Regions from separate parts of the Homo sapiens genome. Here region 2 is linked to region 1. Evidence: fine-mapped expression QTL. A gene starts in region 1. The other region holds a variant in brackets. All regions are shown on one strand. Distances are from middle to middle.

Evidence for each region. PIP is the estimated chance that this variant, and not a neighbour inherited with it, causes the effect. A credible set is the group of variants that fine-mapping cannot tell apart.
Region 2: its variant is the best candidate, but not a certain one, in a credible set for the expression of INTS7 in whole blood (TOPMed, PIP 0.61).

Annotation. Positions count from the first base shown.
Region 1 is chr1:212,032,861-212,038,243 of GRCh38, forward strand. INTS7 (integrator complex subunit 7) reads right to left here and starts at 2,697. Exons shown (of 20, transcript NM_015434.4): 1 at 2,484-2,697. The coding sequence starts at 2,577. It overlaps DTL (denticleless E3 ubiquitin protein ligase adapter), which reads left to right and starts at 2,888. Exons shown (of 15, transcript NM_016448.4): 1 at 2,888-3,082. The coding sequence starts at 3,031. RefSeq lists enhancers at 2,548-2,757, 2,636-3,172, 2,918-3,157, 3,173-3,707.
Region 2 is chr1:212,166,800-212,172,182 of GRCh38, forward strand. No RefSeq gene overlaps it. Among named protein-coding and RNA genes, the nearest start is that of MIR3122, 92 kb to the left of the region's middle. The variant A/G (reference allele first, on the strand shown) is at 2,453.

The DNA.
Region 1 (5,383 bases):
TTTGTACTTGCTGTTCTTCCACTTGATTGAGGAGGTCTTTCTTGCCTATACTTCATAAAATAAGAAATCAACTCCAGCCCCAGATCAGTTTTCTCCAGTCCCTTTCATTGCTTCATTTTCCTTTATAATATGTATCACTAACTGTCACGTTTGCTATATTTGCGGAGTGTCTGCATCTGCTGTCTAGAATGTAAGCTCTATAGGGGCAGGAGTTTTGTCTCATTAACTGCCATGTTCCTAGTACAAAGCCCGATCAAATAAGTCATGTGTCTGAGTGTGTATGCTGAGGTGGGGGAGATATTTCAGAAACAGTATTCCTTGGAGTTTGGGAACGAAAAAAAGAGTTGGAACTTGTAGCCTTCTGACCTTTAGCTCACAAAACAGAAATACTTTAACAGGTACAAGATGAAATGACTCAATATTTAAAATACTCAACTATATTCTACACGAAACTGGCTATTTCTATAACTTAATTTCCTAACAGCTTTAAAAGTTACTACAGATGAGATGAAAAAGAACAAGTCATCTTTCTGAGCCTGAGATTCACCTGTAAAACACTCACGCCAGGCATTGCTGGGAGGAGTGCAAATGATCACTTACTCTGTGTCTAAGATTGACACCTGATTTCTTTCCTATAGATATAAAATATTTTCATTTCAACTCTTCTTTAAAAAGGAAAAATTGTGGTTTTTTTCTTACAACTGCAAAATTTGAGGAATTAAACCATTCTAGACTCCTCTTCAGTGCCCCATCTTTATCCCTGTTCCACAACCACTATCCTATTGTCAGCATGAGACAAGCTCAGCTGCACCAGAATGGTAGAAAATGTCCTTAGAACTCGTAGGGATATTAGATATTATCCTGACCTGTAACTTTCACTGAGGAATAAGAAAGAAATGTATCAGAATGAGGAGGAAAGTGTTTGAAAAACACATTTAAGGCCGGGCGCGGTGGCTCATGCCTGTAAATCCCAGCACTTTGGAAGGCCGAGGCGGACGGATCACCTGAGGTCAGGAGTTGGAGACCAGCCTGGCCAACATGGTGAAACCCCGTCTATACTAAAAATACAAAAATTAGCCGGGCGTGGTGGCGGGCGCCTGTAATTCCAGCTACTCGGGAGGCTGAGGCAGGAGAACCGTTTGAACTCGGGAGGCGGAGGTTGCAGTGAGCCGAGATGGCGCCACTGCACTCTAGCCTGGGCAACAGAGCAACACTCTGTCTCCAAAAAAAAAGAGAAAAACACATTTAGTATTATACTTTTTTTTTTCAGAGGAGAAAACCCCTAAAGATTTGGTAAGAGAAGGAAAAGTTCAACATAATTTTCTTGGTTGATGGGGGTGCACTAAAGATACTGAGACTCAACCAAAGGAATATCCCATTAGGGGGCTGTGAAATTTTTGTGTTTATCAAAATAAGGTAAAAGCTTTTTTAAGAGCCTGAGAAACTCTTATTTAGACTAACCCACTAAAAATATTCACAGTTTAAAAAATAAACAGAAAAAGAGTCCCAAAAAAGTTAATAGACATGTCCAACTCAGAAAACTGGGAAGTGGCTCAAACCCTTCTGAGTTCTAGTCCAGTTCTCCAACATTATATATTGGCTACGATTAATCAAGATTTAATTGTATACCAGCTGCCGAAATGTTTCCCGTACAATAAAAATCCTCAATATGAAATAAAGGTTTCATATTACTAGTCGAGTTCTTTACTAACAAATTTCCGACCTTGCCTCCCATATCCACATCTAAGAAGGGAGGTATATCTCTTCAGCATTTACTAAATGCTTCTTTTGCATACCATTAAGTCACTTAATACAATTCTGCCGGCTCAATGGTACTGTACCCACTTTGCAGACGACAAGCCGAGGCTAGATGAAGTTAATCATAAAATCAGCGGCATTGAAACTTAACTCAGTGTAACCCCAAAGCTCCCTCTACACCAAGCTGCTCCCTGTACGGCAACAGAACTCCTGGAACTTGTCCGCAGAGAATGAGCAGGGCCCTTGCTTTTTTATGGTCTTGGCCAGGTTTAGCCTGCCTTGTAACCCGCAGGTAACAGAGCTATGGAAATCAAATGAATCGCTGTCAAGTCGGTGCAAGATTACTATTCAGCACATTTCATGAAGACCTGGTCTCAACTGAACAGACTGAAAACCAATTTCACAATTTCTTTGCAGTGTCTCTTAGAAACTAGCCACTGTCACTGCTTAGAAAATCGGGGGACTGCTCCCTCAAGTGGTCAAAACGGGCCTCTCACTAGAGCTCGCTACTTGTTTAGCCGGTATAAGGCCAGTCACACAATCCTGCAAATTTCCCGCAACCTCCCGAAGGGGTCAAAGCCCACGCCCCAGCAAAAGCACAGGCGCTCCCCGCCCAGCGAAGACATGCGCATGCGCCTATCCGTCTTCTCCCAAAGCAACCACCACCTGGTGGCGCCACTTCCCCCCACGCCTGTTTCACCCATTCAGCCCTCTCTTTCGAATACCTTTGTCCAATTCCATAAGGGCAGAGTTGGCATCCAGTTCCTGTTCGCCATAGCCGGCATCTGCCAGGAAAGACTTAGTTGAGTTTGACGCCATGACCCGAATAGTTACTCGACTAGCCTAGTCAGAAAGCTTGCAAACTCTACCCCAGGACCGCCATCTTCCCCCGCCGCCTTCTTGCTGGTTTTTCTTCCGCGCGCTGTCAAGCCCTGTTACGCATGCGCCCTGGTCACCCCGCGGTTTGTCCGCGCCTCTGCTACCCCCTGCGCAGGCGCTCAAGGAGCTCTTGGACTCCAGGTTCCCGCGGCTGGGAGAAAAGGAGGCGGGGATCCGAAGGGGGAAATGACTCTGAGGCGCCCGGACGTCGCTCGGAAGCCAATCAGAGAGCGTGACGTCAGTTTGGCGCGGAGTTTGGCGGCCGGGGCTTACAGTGGCGGGAGTTGGAGGCGATAACGATTTGTGTTGTGAGAGGCGCAAGCTGCGATTTCTGCTGAACTTGGAGGCATTTCTACGACTTTTCTCTCAGCTGAGGCTTTTCCTCCGACCCTGATGCTCTTCAATTCGGTGCTCCGCCAGCCCCAGCTTGGCGTCCTGAGAAATGGTGAGTAACGGTCCCAACCGCTGCTCGGAGCTGGCGGAATTCATTTCCCCCGAAACACACGCCACCTCCGACCAGGGCCGACTCCAATTCTGAACTCAGCTTCTGAGTTCTCCCATGGCAAGGGTAAATTAGTGTTAGCAGGGACTACTAAAGAAAGCTGTACTTTCATCCCCTCGGGACACTTGTAATCGTAATCGGGCTTTTAAAATCGTAACGTAGGCAGGGACGTCGAAATAACTGCCTTCCAAGGCCCCTTACAGCTTACATCTCCATTGCGCGTTAACGGGAAAATGCATGCATTTGTGTGTATATGTTTCCTTCAACGGTTATTTGAGATGCTCAAAACTCCTAATCATTGATTAATTCATTCGTTTGTTGTAGAATCTTAGTGAGCCCAGCTATGTGCTATAGGTATATACCAGTGAATATGACCCGCTGTTAAGGAACTCAGTCAAGCAGAGAAGACAGGATATCTGCTTCTAACAGGAACAAAATCTTATTTTCCCCGTTTACTACACGGTCATAAAAATTTAAATTATAGAGTGAAAGATGCCTGTAACCACATCCGCCAGAGATGACCCCTGTTAATAGATTGAAGTATATTATTCCAGATGTTTTCGACGCTAGAGGTAATACCTATTATTTTCAGAAATCGGATCAAAACGTCCAGTTTTTTCACTTTAATGGTATAAGTTGAACGTATTCCCATGTTAATACGTAGAAATCTAACTTATTTTCTTACGCTAAAACATTGGCAATAAGAGATTTGAGGTTAGATTTGGATGTCATCAACTTAAACTTTTTGGTAAGTTTCAGATAAGGGAGCTAACTACCCAGATTAACCTTGGACAGAAATAAAATCTCACTCATGTGAAGGTCGACTATAGCCAGAGGTTCTTTTTCCCCTTGAAACTATGTGGAAAACGAACCTGAGAAGGGAATTTTTATATTCAGCGATGAGTCTAGGAAAATAATATTGAGAAAGAGACTGAGAAGTAGTCCCTCAACTTCCTGCTAGCAGTCTGAAACTTTATACCATCCTTATTTATTTCCCTCTTAGATAATCTTTGTAATTATACTTAAATGCTCCTCTTTCTGTCTCTCCTGGGACCTTGTTTGAGTAACTTCTTTGTCCTCTGTTTAAGAGTGACAGTACGCACAGTGGCTAAGAACTCTGTCTTTGAAGTTAAACTGCCTGGGTTTTATTATACTTCCACACCTTACTATATGTGTGTTCTGGGGGAGCTGTTCAGCCTCTATTTTGTGACAGATTTTCTCCTAATTCTCCATGTGTTTACCTTTCCCTTCCCTCTTTCCTATTCTCAAGTACTCATTCGTTGTTACATAATAGTCACTGAAATTCATTCGTTATTATATGAAATCTATAGAATCATCTCCTTTCCTCTTCAGTGTTGGTGTTCCATCCTTGACCCCTTTTCTTCTTCTACCTACTCCTTTGGATGATCACAGCCACAACCAGGGCTTCTTCCACTTCTACATACATACAACCTTCTGTTACTTATATAGTAAGTCCTCACTTAATGTCTAGATAGGCTCTTGGAAACTGTGACTTTAGGGAAAACAGTGTATAACTAAACTAACTCTACCATAGGCTACTTGATATAAATAAGAATTGTTTCAGTGGCATATTTTGGTCACACAAACACCACCGAACTTCTAAAGAAAGACTCAAAGTACTTTTAATATTAAATGTTGAAATAATTGTGTGCTATACATATATTTGAGAAAGATTAATAAAAACAGGTGAGATAATTATCCAAGTTTTGGTGTATCAGCGAGTGACCTCGGTCATAGTGGTGGTGGGCTAAATCAAGGAATAAATGTTTGCAAAGTGAAAATTGGAAGGAGCACCTCCTACCACCACCCAGGTCAAAAACAATCACAAATATGGCAGCTCACTGAGCCCTTTCATACCAAATCGTTTATTGTCATTCATTTGTATGATTATTGTAAAGTTTACCCATTTTTATTTTACAATGATTTGTATTCATTCATTTTCTGACACACTTATTCCAGCTCAGGGCTGTGGGTGCCCGGAGCCTATCCTGGCAGCTCATGGTACAAGGTGGAAACCAGCTCTAGACCAGACACTATTTCATCACAGGAAGCACTCACACACACTCATTGTCTACTGGGACCATGTAGACACACCAGTGAACCTAACATACACATCTTTGGCATGTGGGAGGAAACCAGAGTACCTGGAGAAAACCCCTATGAACATGGGAAGAGCATGTACAAACTCCACACGGCCAATGGCCTCAAACAGGAATTGATTTT
Region 2 (5,383 bases), 130 kb after region 1:
TTACAGGTGCTTCCCCTCCAGTAAATTAAACCCCTAATAGCAGAAGTAAAGGAAGCACATGTACACTCACACACAGACTGAATATAATACTGGCCCCCAATCAAAAATCATCAGGAAGTCAGACTTCAAGGCAAGCCCTCTGTCCTGAAACGACTCTTTCATGATCAGATAGCACAGGTATCAAAGAGAAAAGACAGAGATGGAGCTTTTGCAAGTTCCTGAACCCAGAAGCCATGGGGTTCTGAAAGACCAGCTGGAAACTGGATGAATTAATATCTGAATAGTTGAATAAACAAACCTGAGCTAGCCTTGCAGACTGAGTAGGATTTCTGTATGTGAGAGGGAGAAGGAGTGGAATTCCCATGGGAAGCAACCCAATTAAGGATCTAGAGCAAGCCACAAGCACGCGAGAACGGTATGACAGAACCATGGCTGCATCTGCTGCACTGGGGGTGACCTAGGTCAGGGCCGTAGCAGAGTCACGTCTCCAGGCAGCACCAGGCTGTCAGCGCTGTTTGGCAATGCAGCTGTGTGTCAGTTTCCTCCTTCATCCCTCTGTGGATATTCAGACTCCCGCCTCTCAGTGGACAGCCTTGCTGGCTTCAGTGATTAACATCAAGGCTATCAGTCATGAACTTCCTCAACCTCCTGTTTCTGCACCTACAAATTATTGTATTTATACCTACTCACAAATTCTTTCTTCCCCAGTCACAGGAAGAGATGTCCTATTAAAGACTAATTCCCCACACCACATTCATGCTTTCCTTTTTCCTCACAAAAACATCATTACTGCCGGGTGCAGTGGCTCACGCCTGTAATCCCAGCACTTTGGAAGGGCGACACGGGCGGATCACAAGTTCAGGAGATGGAGACCATCCTGGCTAACACGGTGAAACCTCGTCTCTACTAAAAATACAAAAAATTAGTCGGGCGTGGTGGCGGGCGCCTGTAGTCCCAGCTACTCAGGAGGCTGAGGCAGGAGAATGGCGTGAACCCGGGAGGTGGAGCTTGCAGTAAGACGAGATCGCGCCACTGCACTCCAACCTGGGCGACAGAGCAAGACACTGTCTCAAAAAAAAAAAAAAAAAAAAAAAAAAAATCATTACATCAGTTGTCACCCTCGACTCCTTTCAGGATCTTTCCCAAAAACTGTGAATAGGAAGTCTCATCATGAGCACATGAAACATTAATCCTATACCCTGTAGCTATTGCCCAATTCTATGGCTTAAATGGGTCCCTTCCAAAAATCAGGTGTTGTCAATGTGATAGAATTAAGAGGCATGGCCTTTAAGAGATTATTATGCTATGAGGGCTCCTCCTCTTGAATGGGATTAGGTATCCTAATAAAGGGATTCGAAGAGGAAATTGGTTCTCTCTTGCGCTTCTGCTTTCCACGTGAGGATGCAGCAAGAAGGCCCCCAAAAGGAGCCAGCATCTTGATTTTGGACTTCCCAGCCTCTAGCACGGTGAGAAACAAATTTCCTTTCTTTATAAATTACCCAGTCTGTGGTATCCTGTTATAGTAGCACAAAACAGACTAAAAATGCCTTTTCTTTCTCTTTCCTTTAACAGAAAAGCTTATTTTTTGTTAAATACTGTTTCACATTTTTCTCTACTTATAAAAGTAGTATACGTTCATTACAGAATATTTAGAAAACAAAGAAATATTTAGAAACAAAGAAAACTGTACAGAAAAAAAAAAAACCAACTTTGTAACCCTGCCACTCATTTTGGAATCTCTCCACCTGAGGAGACATATATATATATATATATATTTTTTTTTTTTTTTTTCAGATGGAGTCTTGCTCTGTCCCCCAGGCTGGAGTGCAGTGGCATGATCTCGGCTCACTGCAAGCTCCGCCTCCTGGGTTCATGCCATTCTCCTGCCTCAGTCTCACGAGTAACTGGGATTACAGGTGCGTGCCACCACACCCAGCTAATTTTTTTGTATTTTTAGTAGAGACAGGGTTTCACCGTATTAGCCAGGATGGTCTCGATCTCCTGACCTCGTGATCCACCCACCTCAGCCTCCCAAAGTGCTGGGATTACAGGCATAAGCCACAGCGCCCAGCCTCACCTGAGGATATTTTGTTTCTATGTGTATATATCTACATTCAGCATTTAATAGCTAACATTTTACTGAGCACTTTCTGTGTGCCAGGCTAACCACCACCCAGTGAGGGACTTTACCATGGCTGCACATCCTGTCAGTGGCCTAGTCAGGATTTGATCCCAGGGAGTCTGGCTTCAGAGGGTGAGATCTTAATCCTGCTCCTTATGCCTCTAATTTATACCAGAATTGGAATCATATAGTATAGGTAATGTTTTATATCCTGCATTTCACTTAGTGTTATATTCTAAGTATTTCTCAATATCACAAATTATGTTTTGTAAATGTAATTTCTAAGTTAGTATCACACTTTTCAATAGGATAGCTTGTCCTCTTCCATTC[A/G]GTTGTCAAACCATTGATTTTTGCCCTCACTTCTCACCACTCAACAGAAACAGATCCCAGAAGGATCATAGGTGACCTCTTCGAGGCTAACTCCATTGGACATGTTATAACCCTTCTCTTTCTTGACTCCTCAGGAATATTTGACACCATTGTACTCTCCTTCTTTCTGTCATCTAGTCAATATTTATTGAGCACCAGCAGAAACTTCCTCCTCTATCCATTTCCAAGACATGCTTTTCTTTGGTTTCCCTTTCTTTCCCTGGCCATGTTTTCTTAGCCTTTAAGTTCCTGGTCCTCAGTCCACACTTGAAGTGTGGGTTCCCCTGAGAGCCCCATGTCGGGGTTTTCACCAGCATTTTTCAGCCCTGACTGTGGCTAGGAATCACTGGAAATAACTGCCTAAAGTATTCAGAGTGGGGAGTGGGCTTCAATATTTTGAAGATGCTTCATGTCTTCCACTCAGTCTTTGCTTTTCCTCCTGTGTTCCCTATGTCAGAGAATAGCATACATCTCCACCCACTTACTTAAGCAAGGAAGCTTGCCTTCTTCCTCTCTCCCAATCAATCACTGTGTCCTGTTGATTCTACCACCTTATTATTTTTAAATGTTTCTACATCTCTCTATCTCCATTGTCATTACCTGCATTCAGCCCATCATCAGTTCTTACCTGGATTACTAAAATGCCCTTGTAGTTGACCCTGCCTCCAATCTTGCCTCACTCCAATCCTTAGGTTGTTGCTGTTTCACACTGAAAACAGCTTTCTTGTTTTTTTTTTCTGATTATGTAAATACTATAAGGTCAATATAAAAATGAAAAGAATCATAAAAATAAGAGGGAGAAAGAAATGATCACCTGAAATCCCACCGCCCTGAGATACCCTCATTCTTCCACTTTTTGGTGATTATCCTTTCATGCACTTTTTATGTTGATCAGTCATATGAGAAAACGGTCTGAACTTTGATCTTCATTGGGATTCAGATATCAGAGAGTGGCGCTGAAGGAGGAACAATTTTAATTAGGGACAAAGAAGGCCTAGAAAGAGGGTATGTATAATCGTAAACAAGTGTCATAATCTAATTGCTGTGGTTTGAATGTGTCCCCCAGATTTCATGTGTTGGAAACTTCATCCCCAATGTGGCAGTACTGAGAGGTTTGGGCCTTAAGGGATGAATGGATCGTGAGGGCAGAGCCATTATTCATGGATGAATGGATGAATGGGTTAGTGGATTAAAGTGTTATCATGGAAGGGGAACTGGTGGCTTTATAAGAAGAGGAAAAGGGGCCTGAGCTAGCATCTTAGCATGCTAAGCTCCCTTGCGATGTGATATCCTGTGCCACCTTAGGACTGTGCAGTCTCCACAAGCTATATCTTCAAAGTCATACAATGACTATAAAAGCACCAGCCATACATCCTTTTCAGGTAAGAAATGGGGAAGACCAGGGGCCAGAAAGAGCTTCACCTAAACTTCATCCAAATACTCCATCCAAAACTTCCACTTAAATTTCATTGGCCATTCCTATCTGCAAGAAGAGACACGTTTGAGCACATTGCTACCCCTAATGATGGAGGTTCTCTTAGTAAGGAAGAAAGAAATAATAGATTTAGGTAGGCAGCTAGCAGGCTGTACCTAAACACACACACAAACGGTTTTAGGGTTTTTGTTTTGCTATTGGTAGATGTCATCATTTTCCGAAAATTGGTTCAGAGTACATCTATACCTTTGCATACAGCTTTCCCCCACTTAATCACATTTCATCGAAATCTCTCCAAGTCCATTAATATAGATCTAACATATATTTAAATGGCTACACAATTCCCCATGTATAAGCACACTGTAATTTATTCATTCATTCCTCTAATGATGGGCTTCACTTGGTTTTCAGTGTTTCGCCAACTACAAACAATGCAGCAATAAGCACCTCTGTACATGCATTTTTTTTGTATTGGTGCTTTTATTTCTATAGAGTAGATTCCCAGCAGTGGGATTGCTAGGTTGAAGGGCAAATGTATTAAAATTGTATAGTCTTTGCCTGATTGCCAAAAGGTTTGTAGCAACTCATACTGCACCCAGCAATATATGAGTACCTATTTCCTTCTCATTCTTACCAATAGTAGATGTTTTCCCTCTTAATTTTTACCAATCTGAAGGGTATAAAGTGATATTACGTTATTACCTTAATTTTCATTTCCCTGATTGATAGTCATATTGAGCATCTTTTAAATCTACTTATTGGCCAGGCATGGTAGCTTATGCCTGTAATCCTCACACTTTGGGAGGCCAGGGAGGGTGGATCGCTTGAGCTCAGGAGTTCAAGACCAGTCTGGGCAACATGACGAAACCCCATCTCTACCAAAAGTACAAAAATTAGCTGGGCATGGTGGCCCACGCCTGTGGTCCCAACTACTTGGGAGGCTGAGGTGGGAGGATCACTGAAGCCCAGGGAAGTGAGGCTGCAGTGAGCCATGATCGTGCCACTGCACTCCAGTCTGGGCAACAGAGGGAGACCTAGTCTCAAATAAATAAATAAATATTGGACACTTAGAATTTCTCTTCTATGAATTACATTTCATTCAAGTCATCTATTTCTACTAGTTTTGTCTTTTCTAATCAATTTCTGAGAGTTTTTGTGTATTATGAATATTAATCATCAATTAATACAGTATAATTAGCATTCTAGCATACTACATAAAAACTTTATTGGCTGTTCTTTGCCTACAGAATAAAGTCCAGGTTTTTTAACAAAATGAAGTATGTTGTCTGGGCAGGAGATGGTGTTCAGATGCCTTTGATAGGGACAGTTAGGCAACTCCTTTCTCCCCATGTGTCCATTTACATACATCGATTTACACAGAGATTAAACAGTATGGTCTATGAGGAAAAGGTCTGAACCTTGTTTTGGTTGGACTTCAGTCATCTGATGGACTGGGG